Linked DNA regions of Homo sapiens. The protein of the gene in region 1 interacts with the protein of each later gene in a pairwise test. Each region holds a gene or a part of one and is shown in the gene's direction. Other genes may lie near its edges.

Region 1 (3,500 bases):
GCCAGGCTGGTCTTGAATGCCTGACCTCAGGCAATCCGCCTGCCTCAGCCTCCCAAAGTGCTGGGATTACAGGCATGAGCCACTGCGCCCAGCCAGCCCTTCCTTTCTTAATTGGCCAACAAAATCAGACTCATCAGACTCCACCTGTAATATAATTATAAATTCTTTAATGTATAATTCATTTTGGCCAAAGTATGATTCAGTTTCTGTAAGGTTCATATTCTGAAGTCATTTTCGGCTTTGTCAGAGAAGCAGGAGGGCAATTTAGATTAATAGATGTTTCCAATTAGTAGGATTCAGATTAGCTAAATCTGATGATGGATGAAGAAATGAGGCCTAGTTTGCCAGATGTTAAACCCCTAGAGTCAGAACTGATAGTAAATTCCACAGTCTCCACCATCCCCTTTTCCACTGACCCTTTTTCCACATTGAAAATGAGGAAGCAACTTGAGTTTCTTTAAATAAGATGTTTAGGTAAACTTTGGAAGCCTAACTTTTTTTTTTTCTTTTTGAGACACGGTCTCGCTCTGTCATCCAGGCTGGAGTGCAGTGGCGTGATCCTAGTTCACTGCAGCCTCCATCTCCTGGGCTCAAGTGATCCTCCCATCTCAGCCTCCTGAGTAGCTGGGACAATAGGTGTGTGCTGCCAACCCGGCTAATTTTTTTACTTTTTGTAGAGACAGGGACTCGCTGTGTTGCCCAGGCTGGTCTTGAACTCCTGAGCTTGAGTGATCCTCCTGCCTCAGCCTTTTAAAGTGCTGGGATTGCCGGGTGCGGTGGCTCACGCCTGTAATCCCAGCACTTGGGGAGGCTGAGGTGGGCAGATCACGAGGTCAGGAGATCGAGACCATCCTGGCTAACACAGTGAAACCCCGTCTCTACTAAAAATACAAAAAAATTAAGCAGGCCTGGTGGCGGGCGCCTGTAGTCCTAGCTACTTGGGACGCTGAGGCAGTAGAATGGCGTGAACCTGGGAGGCGGAGCTTGCAGTGAGCTGAGATCACGCCACTGCACTCCAGCCTGGGCGACAGAACAAGACTCCACTCAAAAAAAAAAAAAAAAAAAAGGGCTGGGATTACAGGCATGAGCCACTGCGCCCGGCCTGGGAGCCTAACTTTTGCTTCCACTCTTGGTTGGCTCTGGGCCTGATTCAACCTACATGGAACTTCTGGAACTTGTTTCTCTCTCTTTTTTTTTTTTTTTTGAGACGGAATCTCCCTCTGTCTCCCAGGCTGGAGCGCAGTGGTGCAATCTCAGCTCACTGCAAGGTCCACCTCCCGGGTTCACGCGAGTCTCCTGCCTCAGCCTCCCGAGTAGCTGGGACTACAGGCGCCAGCCACCGCACCCTGCTAATTTTTTGTATTTTTAGTAGAGACGGGGTTTCACCGTGTTAGCCAGGATGGTCTCAATCTCCTGACCTCGCGATCCGCCCGCCTTGGCCTCCCAAAGGCGTGAGCCACCGCGCCCGGCCTACTTGTTTCTCTTTAATCACCAGAGTTCATTGGTAGCAGTGTCCATACTTTTGAAAATGAAGCAAATGCTCATGCTTTGAAGAATCAGTGAGAGAACCCACACTTTGCCTGCTTCTTGTGCCTGGCCTTATCCCTTCTCCCTCATTTAACACTCTGGTGGTGGCGGGCGGTGGAGCATTAGTGGCACTGGTGTGTTATTATCTATATTTTGCAGATGAATACATTGAGATTCAGAAGGGTTAGGTAATGTGCTCCAGGCCACACAACTAGTTAATAGCCAAGCCAGAAGGAGAGCATGGTGAAACCCATTATTTGTTTTTCCTTACTCTGCTTTTTGCCTGTCACTAGTGTTTAATCCAGCAAAAGGAAAAACATTTCTTGAAAACAGATAAAGTCAGCACTATCAAGTAAATGAAAAATCAGAGGCCTTTTGACTTGCTATAGACGGTACTGGCCTCTACTATTTCTCTAGCTTTATTTTAACACATAAAATGTTCTCTAGTTCCAGGAAAAAAGAACAGCTCTGGGCGATCAAGAAAATAAAGCTGAACTACTGTCTAGATTAGAGTGTTGGTGGGGTTTTTTGGTGTGTGTGTGTGTGTGTGTGTGTGTGTGTGTGTTTTAGACATTAATTTCAGAGTAAAGAATTAATAAAAGTAACATTCCATAGATTAATTTTAATTAAAACATTTCATTGGAATAGTCCCTCGTTTGTGTTAAATGTGGTGGTCTCTGAACTCAATATAAGCCTGTTGGAAAGGTATGAACAGGAAAAGTTCCTGAGAGCTGAGAGTTGCTATAGAGAGAAAGTTGTCATTATCTTCATTTGAAACATTTGGTAGACGTAGATGTAGATTCTAGAGTTTTTGTTTGTTTGTTTCTTTTTCTGAGCCACACTCTCTCGCTCTGTCGCCCAGGCTGGAGTGCAGTGGGATGATTTCGGCTCACTGCGACCTCCACCGCCCGGTTTCAAGCAAGTCTCCTGCCTCAGCCTCCCGAGTAGCTGGGATTACAGGCGCCCACCATCACGCCAGGCTAATTTTTTGTATTTTTAGTAGAGAAGGGGTTTCACCATGTTGGTCAGGCTTGTCTCGAACTCCTGACCTCAGGCGATCCGCCCACTTTGGGCTCCCAAAGTGCTGGGATTACAGGCATGAGCCACTGCCCCCGGATGATTCTAGAGTTTTAGACTTAGAAGGCGTATTGGAGATGATTTATAATTGAGCCATTTATTTATTTATTTATTTGTTTGTTTATTTTTGAGATGGAGTCTTGCTCTTTCACCCAGGCTGGAGTGCAGTGGCGCAATCTTGGCTCACTGAAACCTCTGCCTCCCGAGTTCAAGAGATTCTCCTGCCTCAGCCTCCAGAATAGCTGGGATTTACAGGCTTGTACCACCCCAGCCAGCTAATTTTTGTGTTTTTAGTAGAGATGGGGTTTCACCATGTTGGTCAGGCTGGTCTCGAACTCCTGAGAGTTCATGCCCGGTGAGCCATTTCATTTTATAATGAAGTCTAGACCTGTAGTAGGTGCAGTTAAGTTGTCTACCTCATTGACAAACTCTAGGCTAGAACCAGGTCTGATTTAAGGCTCAAGGCTGTTCTACTATATGGAATTCTCCCTCCTCTGAGATTCCTTGGTGGAAGAAAATATTCTCCTGAGGACCCATGTGTAAAGCAGGTACACTGGCTCTACTCTCTAGTTGAAGGTGGCTGGGGACTCCAACCTTGTGTCTGCTTAGCGGGACACATAGGGTAGCCCCATTGGAACCTATTGGAAGGGTGGCCCACCTCCTCCCGCAGCCACTCGGTCCCAGTGAGCGACCTGCTCACCAAGGAGGCTCCTTGGAGCACAGTCTGAAGATCACCCTGCACCTGCCACCCTCGCCACAGAGGTACTTGTTAGTAAAATGAGCGTCTCTCAAGAGACGCTAAGCACATCCTAATATTATCTAAGGCAGGAATCCTTTTGTTTTCATTGCTTTCTTTACTGTTTAACCGTTCTGGCCAGGCGCGGTGGCTCATGCCT
Region 2 (3,500 bases), on another chromosome or scaffold:
ACCCCCATTTTACAGCTGAAAAAAAAAAGCTGTAGTGTATGATGAATAATTTGCCCGTAACTACATGCCTAGTGAGTGTAGCAAGCCCAAGATTTGCAGCTAGGTCTTCTTTAAGATGCCAAACGCCATCTCTTGCCCTCACATCATACCTCAGTGGTCTCCTTCCTGGTTAGCTACACACAGGTCTTTTATTTTTCCAGAGAGAGATTATAATCGAACCTGACTTCAGAAATCTGGATCACCCCTAGTCCAGTTATATAGACTGTGGACATATGTGTGTGTTGTTGATTTTCAACTGAGGTTCATTGCTTTTTGGTTGGAGAAAAGGAATTTGTAAAATTTGATGTTAAGTGGACAGGCCTGTCAGTAATGTTCTGTAACTTAGTCTTTAAATCTAGAGGGGGTTTTTGGTCTGTTGTTTAAATAACATGAAACTACATACAACTGTGTCCTTGCCTAGAATCAAGAAGTGGTGGACTTTGAAAAGTTGGATGACTACGCCTCTGCCTTTCAAGGTCATGATGTTGGATTCTGTTGCCTGGGTACCACCAGAGGGAAAGCTGGGGCGGTAAGGAAGGCATATGCTCTTTTCCCTTTTTGCTGGCCAGTAATATCAAGGATTCTTTTCTTGCTCACTCTTTTTCTTTGTGCCTGTTGCAATGCTTAAATGTGAATAAGCCTTTATTGTTTAAGATTCTATATGCTGCACTAACCTTTGGTATCCTTTTAATAGTACTGATAAGTTCGTCTTTCAAAGTAATCCTTGAGTTCAGGCCCCAGTGCTGGAGACGTCGTAAATATTTACATGATTTTGCCTATTGTGATTATCGCTATCACTACATCCCCTGACTAAGGGAAACCATGATGTCTGAGTAAAACTAATTGGTTTATGCTGTTAACAATCAGCTGTTTTTCCCCTTAATAAATGTTTGAAATTTGAAATGTTCTGTCTCACTTGAGTGATTTGCTTCAACTTATTTTCATGTCAAGCTTTAAACTTCTGGAATAGAACATCAGAACACAGGCACGATTCAACCAGCCTCCAGCGATGACTCAGCCTTCAGCGATGATTCAACCCCACTAATGATTCAGTCTTTACTGACGCAAAAGTCTTTTAACGCACATTTTATTTTCTTTTTAATGGTGTTCTAAATTGAGTCAGCTCCTGTACAGAAGTCATAGTTTACTACATAGTTAGAAATCAGAGTTTACTACCTGGATTCTGGGCAAATGTTAGTGCGGGTACATCTTATTTAATTTATACTTTGACTATAGTTTATTCCTCTGGCAGAATTTACATGCTGGAGCTGAAAAAACCTGCATGTTCTGCATATGTATCCCAGAACTTAAAGTAAAATTTAAAAATATTTAATAATAAATACATAAATAAAACAGAAGAAAGTGAAAAAAGTAAATAAATAAATAAAGCCGAGGCACAGTGGTTCATGCCTGTAATCCCAGGAAAACAAGAAAAAAGAAAAAATATATATATATATGACTATGACTCTGCCATGGGAATTCTCCTTAGGTTTATAAGCCAGACCCCTTCACCTGAAACATTAAGGGAGCATATAGTGAAGAACTATTCATTTATACCAACCGAGTAGTTAGATTCAGATGTATTTCTTTGGGCCTCCTTGTGATGCAAAGAGTAATTCTATGTATGCTTTCAATCAAGATGTATTTCCATACCTTCTGCAGTTCTGCCTATCTGTCCTGGAACACAGCTGGGATTGGAGCTCTGTGATGGGAACTATGGATTATAGAGAAGTTTGACTTTCCCAGGAATTGGCACATTATCTCTCCTAGAAAGGGTCATGTTCCTGCTTAACAGTGGGTGCAGTCTTTTCTGTCCCAGGCACAGTCACAAGTGGTGTGCCCTCCAAAAGCATTGAAAAACTTTTGTTCCAGGACACTGCAGGTTTGTCTCAAGTGCCAACCTGGTTTTGGTGGTGAGTCAGCAAAACAAAATGCTGCATTAGGCATAGAAGGGTTGATTTTCATGACATAAGGCAAATCTCATTATAGGGTGTGCCAGGGAAAAGTCTAAACTGCTTTTTGTGTTCAAAATGGGTAATGCAATTTTAATCAGAGGAATTGTGTGTCTTTACTATCCAGAATTTTCTTTTTTAATGGGGTTGGTTCTTCACGTCTCAGGCTATTCAATACCTTTTGTTCTCCTTTAAAATCAATTTGGAAAGATAAAAGTAATTAACTAGTAAGCAAGAATAGACTAATGAGCCTAGACTATTCACCTAGCTTAGAAATGAATTAGGACTTAAATGATTTAAGAGGTTAGTGGTGGAAAGCAAGCTGACACTTATACCAGAAAAGTGTTTTGTTTGTTTTGGGGGCTTTAAAAAAAAAACTAATTTGGGCTGTGTACAATATAAAGTTGGGAGGTTGATAACTTTAGCCAATATGAAAGAGGTGACAGTTCATATGTGGCTAAGTAACGATAGTGTTTTAAGTGGAGGTTGTGGATTTCCAAGCTTATCCCAGCTGGTGTTCTGGGTCAGCAGCCCTCTCTGTAGAAAAAAGTTCGTTGGGTGGTTTATCATATGAGTACTACAAAGCTAGTGGCAAAACTAGTACGCTTCACTAGGGATTTTGTAACTGGAACACCTCATATATTGCCTTAGCAGTCTGTGTTTCCAGCAGAGAAACTTCAAGAAATTCAGCGTTTTTGTCTCAGTATTGAGATCCTCTGTGTAGGTGGCTTATTTCCATGTGATGTTCAGTGTATTAGTTTGCTAGGGCTGCCATAACCCAAGTAGCTTGAACAACAGAAACGTATTGTCTCACAGTTCTGGAGGCTAGAAGTCTGAGATCCAGGTCTCAGCAGGCTGGTCAGTGCTCTGAGGCTGAGCCCTTGAGTTTCCAGGCCCTCTCCTTGTCTTGTAGATGGCAGCCTTCTCTTTGTGTCTCTTTACGTGGTATTTTCCCTGAATACCTGTGCCTATATCCACATTTCCCCTTTTTATAAGACCACTAGTCATACTGGATTAGGGACCACCCTATTTAGTATGATCTCAACTAATTACATCTGCAATGAACTTATTTCCAAATAAGGTCATATTCTGAGGTAATGGGGGTTAGGAGTTCAACATACGCATTTTGGGGGGATGTAATCCAACCCACAAAATTCAGTCTACTCAGGTTTCTATTGACACTGGTTCTAGGAAAAGGTCTATTAGCTTTCCTCAGCTGTTTGGAAGACTATTTCCTTTAACAGTAGCTGGGCAGATGCTAATCTTCCTTTTCATATTCACAGAACACAGTTGTTCAGTCAATGCACTGGCTCCCTGACTTGGCCCTGATCCAGATCTACTGCATCAGCATCTCTGAATTTGGAAGCTTGGAATCTGTATTTTTAGCAGGCTCCTTGGGAGATCCTGATGCAGTCAACCCTGTCCTTCTTGTTGAACCTACTTTCAAGAGGCATTGGGGTGTATTAATTCCCCTCACTTGCTGGTTTTCTGGGTACTGTGGTCCTGGAT
Region 3 (3,406 bases), on another chromosome or scaffold:
GTCTTTTAGTCTTCTATGGATCATAAGCCCCAAAAGGGTGAGGACATTATCTACTGTTTGTTTATATGTACCAAGTATAGTGATATACACACAGTTGGTGCTGAAGAAATTCTCATTAATTCCAAGTAGAGTGCAGATTTGTACACAGGACTGTCTCCCATACAAGAGCAAGCCAACCTGATAATTCATTTCCACTTGTCTTAGTTGAGTTTTAAAGTTACCTTCCATCATCATAGAAATTATTTGATGCATCCTCAGGTTCTGATAGTTGCTGGCTTCCTTGGCTGTGAAGCCACTACATGAACAGAACTTCATGCTGAATTTTTAAATACAGTGCTTAGGGATTCACAAATACTTAAGTGAGCCCAGAATGTGAACAGATTGAACAAATGTTCAGTGTAAAGTTGTCCACAAATGAGAAAATTATTAGGAGCTAAAATGTTTAAAGGAAGGGGGGAGGGTAATTGTATGAGGGAATAAAACAGTTGTACAAATCATCAAAAAAAAAAAAACAATGTAAAATATTTTTGTAAGTGTCGAAGTATCTTTAGGTAGATTGTTGGTCAAACTTCATATGGTTGTTCTTTAGGACACTGTTTATAAGTCGGTGTTGTAAATCTGATGTGAATTTTTGTTTCTTTTTTCTTAGATTTTTGCCTTTATGACGACAGCTTGTTATGGTTGCAGTTTGGGTCTGGCTTTACGAAGATGGCGACCGTAACACTCCTTAGAAACTGGCAGTCGTATGTTAGTTTCACTTGTCTACTTTATATGTCTGATCAATTTGGATACCATTTTGTCCAGATGCAAAAACATTCCAAAAGTAATGTGTTTAGTAGAGAGAGACTCTAAGCTCAAGTTCTGGTTTATTTCATGGATGGAATGTTAATTTTATTATGATATTAAAGAAATGGCCTTTTATTTTACATCTCTCCCCTTTTTCCCTTTCCCCCTTTATTTTCCTCCTTTTCTTTCTGAAAGTTTCCTTTTATGTCCATAAAATACAAATATATTGTTCATAAAAAATTAGTATCCCTTTTGTTTGGTTGCTGAGTCACCTGAACCTTAATTTTAATTGGTAATTACAGCCCCTAAAAAAAACACATTTCAAATAGGCTTCCCACTAAACTCTATATTTTAGTGTAAACCAGGAATTGGCACACTTTTTTTAGAATGGGCCAGATGGTAAATATTTATGCTTCACGGTCCATACAGTCTCTGTCACAACTATTCAGTTCTGCTAGTATAGCGTGAAAGCAGCTATACACAATACAGAAATGAATGAGTGTGGTTATGTTCTAATAAAACTTATTTATAAAAACAAGGGGAGGCTGGGTTTAGCCTGTGGGCCATAGTTTGTCAACCACTGGTGTAAAACCTTAGTTATATATGATCTGCATTTTCTTGAACTGATCATTGAAAACTTATAAACCTAACAGAAAAGCCACATAATATTTAGTGTCATTATGCAATAATCACATTGCCTTTGTGTTAATAGTCAAATACTTACCTTTGGAGAATACTTACCTTTGGAGGAATGTATAAAATTTCTCAGGCAGAGTCCTGGATATAGGAAAAAGTAATTTATGAAGTAAACTTCAGTTGCTTAATCAAACTAATGATAGTCTAACAACTGAGCAAGATCCTCATCTGAGAGTGCTTAAAATGGGATCCCCAGAGACCATTAACCAATACTGGAACTGGTATCTAGCTACTGATGTCTTACTTTGAGTTTATTTATGCTTCAGAATACAGTTGTTTGCCCTGTGCATGAATATACCCATATTTGTGTGTGGATATGTGAAGCTTTTCCAAATAGAGCTCTCAGAAGAATTAAGTTTTTACTTCTAATTATTTTGCATTACTTTGAGTTAAATTTGAATAGAGTATTAAATATAAAGTTGTAGATTCTTATGTGTTTTTGTATTAGCCCAGACATCTGTAATGTTTTTGCACTGGTGACAGACAAAATCTGTTTTAAAATCATATCCAGCACAAAAACTATTTCTGGCTGAATAGCACAGAAAAGTATTTTAACCTACCTGTAGAGATCCTCGTCATGGAAAGGTGCCAAACTGTTTTGAATGGAAGGACAAGTAAGAGTGAGGCCACAGTTCCCACCACACGAGGGCTTTTGTATTGTTCTACTTTTTCAGCCCTTTACTTTCTGGCTGAAGCATCCCCTTGGAGTGCCATGTATAAGTTGGGCTATTAGAGTTCATGGAACATAGAACAACCATGAATGAGTGGCATGATCCGTGCTTAATGATCAAGTGTTACTTATCTAATAATCCTCTAGAAAGAACCCTGTTAGATCTTGGTTTGTGATAAAAATATAAAGACAGAAGACATGAGGAAAAACAAAAGGTTTGAGGAAATCAGGCATATGACTTTATACTTAACATCAGATCTTTTCTATAATATCCTACTACTTTGGTTTTCCTAGCTCCATACCACACACCTAAACCTGTATTATGAATTACATATTACAAAGTCATAAATGTGCCATATGGATATACAGTACATTCTAGTTGGAATCGTTTACTCTGCTAGAATTTAGGTGTGAGATTTTTTGTTTCCCAGGTATAGCAGGCTTATGTTTGGTGGCATTAAATTGGTTTCTTTAAAATGCTTTGGTGGCACTTTTGTAAACAGATTGCTTCTAGATTGTTACAAACCAAGCCTAAGACACATCTGTGAATACTTAGATTTGTAGCTTAATCACATTCTAGACTTGTGAGTTGAATGACAAAGCAGTTGAACAAAAATTATGGCATTTAAGAATTTAACATGTCTTAGCTGTAAAAATGAGAAAGTGTTGGTTGGTTTTAAAATCTGGTAACTCCATGATGAAAAGAAATTTATTTTATACGTGTTATGTCTCTAATAAAGTATTCATTTGATAATCTTTGTGGTCATCTTTTACACCATTCACTTTGAAATTCAGTTAAAGGTTTGATATAAATTTGGCAGAGCTTATAGAATTATAATGTATAAAAAGTTCTGTTTTAAACATTTCTGTGTAAAAGTCTCTCAGGAATTGTCAGTAAGTCTTTTTTCTTTGATGAAGGTGAAAGAGGCAAGTCTTTGGAAGTAACGTTGCAAAGGAAGTTTAAATGAGAATTCTGTTTTGCCGAGTGTGATGACTTATGCCAGTATTCCCAATACTTTGGGAAGCCGAGGCAGAAGGATCACTTGACACTAGGAATTCAGGACCAACCTGGGCAATATAGCAAGACCTCATCTCTACAAAATAATTTAAAAATTAGCTGGGTGCATGTGGCACGTGCCTCTAGTCCCAGCTACTTGGGAAACTGAGGTGGGAGGATTGCTTTAGCCCAGGATGTTGAGGCTCCAACCTGGGTGACAGAGTGAGACCCTGTCTCACACACACACAAAAAAAACC
Region 4 (3,500 bases), on another chromosome or scaffold:
AAATAAAGAATAAACGGGATTTTTTTTCACCTTCATTTTTAAAAGTTATTTTTATTGTGGTACAATACCTAGAACATAAAATTTACCGTTTTAACCATTTCTAAGTATGCTCTAAGTACATGTCATTAAGTACATTCACAATGCATGGCCACCATCCATCTCCAGAATTTTATCTTCCCAAACTGAAACTCTGTATCCATTACACAATAACTCCCTAATTCCCCCTCCCTCCAGCCCCTGGCAACCACCATTCTGCTTTCTGTCTCTATGAATTTGCCTATTCTAGGTACCTCATATAATTGGAATTATTATTCCAGTGTTTGTCCTTTCATGATTGGCTTATTTTACTTAGTATAATGGCTTTAAGGCTCACCATGTGGTATCATGGGTCAGAATTTATTTCCTTTGAAAGGCTGAGTTATACGGTGCCTTGTGTGGATATGCCACATATTGTTTTCCATTCATCTATTGATGGACATTTAGGTTGCCTTGACGTTTTGGCTATTGTGAGTAATGTTGCTATGAACATAGATGTACAAACATCTCTTTGAGACTCTGCTTTCAATGCTTTTGATATATACCCAGAAATGGAATTCCTGGATCACACAGTAATTCTGTTTTTATTTTTATTTTTTGGAATTGCCATCCTGTTTTCCTCAATGGCTGCACAATTTCACATTCCCACCAACAGTGCACAAGAGTTTCAATTTCTCCACATCCTCACCTATACTTCTTATTTTCTGTTTTTTAAATAATAGCCATCCCAATGGGTGTGAGATGATCTCATTGTGGTTTTGCTTTACATTTCCCTGATGATCAGTAATGTTGAGCATCTTTTCATGTGCCTGTTGGCCATTTGATTTGACTTCTTTTAGACTGATTAGCTTTACCATTCCATTTGTCTTTCTCTTCTAGTTTAGGTGCTATACATCTTGTTTCTGTTCTTTTAGTGATTATGCTAGAAATTACAACACAAATCCTGGGTCTTGAAGGTTACCAAGGTAGCTTCAGTGTCCAACAGGGCGTGATGCCCACAGAGGTGCCTAAGACATTCAAATATGTTCAATCCAACAGTTATAGATTAAATACTAATGATATGATCTTGGGCTGTCCTTGCTGTGAGATCCTTGCAGCCTCCTTACTATCTAGTAACAGAGATAAACCAATCATTCATTCAATCATTGTCCGCATTTTATGTGCCAGTGCTGGACATATACACAGATCACTATAATGTAAGACAGACTGTGGTGAGTGAAAGAGCCATGACAAAGTGATATTAGGGTATCGGAATAAGAAATTATTACATAAGTTGAACAGATCAGGGGAGACAGGAAAGGGAATCACCGTGGAATGGCAAACAGGACATGAGTTCTGGAGTTCATCAGACTTAGATGGCAATTAGCTATGTGACTCCAAGCAAGTACTGCAATCCCTCTAAGTCTCAGTATCCCCATCCTCTCAGTCTGGTCCATGGGAAATGCTCCTACAGAAATGTCTGCCTTCCTCCCTTCCTTCCTCCTCTTCTTTCTCGCCTATCTTTCCTTCCTCCTTTTCTTTCTCACCTTCTTTCCTTCCTTCCTTCTATCTTGCTCAGAGCCTCCCTCAGTGCTTCCCCTCCTTCCCAAATGATGTTCAGAATCATAGCTGATTACTGAGCATTACTGGAAGTAATGGGGAGGAAATAGAGAAAATGGAGGAAAGGCAGAGGGACAAGAAGGAAGGAGGAAGCAAGAAGAGAGGAACGAGAAAATGGCTTGGAGGAGATTTGGAACACAAATATTCATGTCCTTAAAATTAGGCTGTGGCTCTGACAGCCCCTCTGAGAGCCAGCTTTCATTCAGAGGATGGCTTTCCCTCATCTCTTCCGGGCTTGTATCACCATCCCCCTAAACTATCTCAATATCCTTTTTCCTGATCGTCTAACCTCTGATCTCCACCCTCTCCAATCTATTCCAGTGCTTACTTCTGGAGGTCTTTCAAAAGCATCTTTTTTTTTTTTTTTTTTTTTTTTTTTTGAGACGGAGTCTTACTCTGTTGCCCAGGCTGGAGTGCAGTGGGGCAATCTCGGCTCACTGCAACCTCTGCCTCCCGGGTTCAAGCAATTCACCTGCCTCAGCCTCCTGAGTAGCTGGGATTACAGGTGTGTGCCACCACACCCAGCTAATTTTTTGTTTGTTTGTTTTTGTTTTGAGGCAGAGTCTCGCTCTGTCGCCCAGGCTGGAGTGCAGTGGCGCGATCTCGGCTCACTGCAAGCTCCGCCTCCCGGGCTCACGCCATTCTCCTGCCTCAGCCTCCCGAGTAGCTGGGACTACAGGTGCCCGCCACGATGCCCGGCTAAGTTTTTTGTATTTTTTTAGTACAGATGGGGTTTCACCGTGTTAGCCAGGATGGTCTCGATCTCCTGACCTTGTGATCCGCCTGCCTCGGCCTCCCAAAGTGCTGGGATTACAGGCGTGAGCCACCGCGCCCGACCATTTCTTTTGTATTTTTAGTAGAGACAGGGTTTTGCCACGTTGGCCAGGCTGGTCTCGAACTCCTGACCTCAGGTGATCTGCCCTCCTCAGCCTCCCAAAGTGCTGGGATTACAGGCGTGAGCCACCGCCTCAAAAGCATATTTGATTACATCCCTCTCCTGCTCAAAAATAGTCAGTGGTTTCCCATTGCCTAAGTGATGATGTATAAAGGTATCAGACTGGGCATTCAAAGCCCTCCTCCATTCTCTGGTGTTAACCCCTTGCCAGCTCGTCCTCCTACTCTTCCCTACGTGATTGCCTTGCGTTCCAGGCAATCTATTCACTAAACAAACAGGAAATGTACTCTCCCACTCCTTCACCTCTGCTCCCACTACTCCCACTACTCCTGCCAGTGGAAAGATGGCATGATAGCTCTTCCTGGACTATCCAGGGACAGCGCCTCCTTTTAGATATTACTCAAGTCATATCTTCTCTGTAACATTTTCCAGACAACCCAAGACTATATCGCCTCTGAAAGTCTAGAGCATTTTGTAAGAATGGCTGGGTAGCAGCCATTATATCTTTGGTGCCCTCTACCCAATAAGCTCCATGAGAACAGGAGCCCTTTCTTATCATTATTATATTTCATGCAAGACCAAGCTTGACACTAACTTGAAGGTCTTCCAGATTTCTTCTTCCTCAGCAGAAATCTTTAAATTCACTCTTATTCTTTTTTCTCTCCCTTGGACATCCTTTTTGGGTGTGTGGGCCTGCCCTCTTTCTCTGGTTTCTGGTACTGTAAAAAATAGAACAGGTTGGGTGCAGTGGCTCATGCCTGTAATCCAAATATTTTTGGAGGCCGAGGTGGGAGGATCGCTCGAGCCTGGGAGTTTGAGACCAGCTTGGGCAACACAGTGAGACTCCATCTCTACAGAAAAAAAAAAAAATCAAAAAATTAGCCAGGCATGGTGGTGCATGCCTGTGGTCCTAGCTATTGTGCAGGCTGAAATGGGGGGCTCCTTTGAGCCTAAGAGGTAAAGGTTAGAG

What was found. Proteins that work in one complex are often made in the same cells at the same time.
Region 2: the proteins of PITPNC1 (region 1) and HTATIP2 interact in binary tests that used the Homo sapiens proteins (3 or more experiments, as listed by UniProt).
Region 3: the proteins of PITPNC1 (region 1) and MAL2 interact in binary tests that used the Homo sapiens proteins (3 or more experiments, as listed by UniProt).
Region 4: the proteins of PITPNC1 (region 1) and DGAT2L6 interact in binary tests that used the Homo sapiens proteins (3 or more experiments, as listed by UniProt).

What each region holds. Positions count from the first base shown.
Region 1 is NC_000017.11:67,380,281-67,383,780, forward strand, and holds part of PITPNC1 (cytoplasmic phosphatidylinositol transfer protein 1), read left to right. Parts: intron 1-3,500.
Region 2 is NC_000011.10:20,366,714-20,370,213, forward strand, and holds part of HTATIP2 (protein HTATIP2), read left to right. Parts: intron 1-460; coding exon 461-568; coding exon of another isoform or gene 569-667; exon of another isoform or gene 668-942; intron 943-3,500. UniProt on the Homo sapiens protein: Represses translation by preventing reactivation of elongation factor eEF1A. May also inhibit nuclear import by competing with nuclear import substrates for binding to a subset of nuclear transport receptors.
Region 3 is NC_000008.11:119,242,768-119,246,173, forward strand, and holds the end of MAL2 (protein MAL2), read left to right. Parts: intron 1-649; coding exon 650-721; 3' UTR 722-2,906; downstream 2,907-3,406. UniProt on the Homo sapiens protein: Member of the machinery of polarized transport. Required for the indirect transcytotic route at the step of the egress of the transcytosing cargo from perinuclear endosomes in order for it to travel to the apical surface via a raft-dependent pathway.
Region 4 is NC_000023.11:70,180,483-70,183,982, forward strand, and holds part of DGAT2L6 (diacylglycerol O-acyltransferase 2-like protein 6), read left to right. Parts: intron 1-3,500. UniProt on the Homo sapiens protein: Diglyceride acyltransferase that uses fatty acyl-CoA as substrate. Particularly active with oleate as a substrate. Has no wax synthase activity to produce wax esters.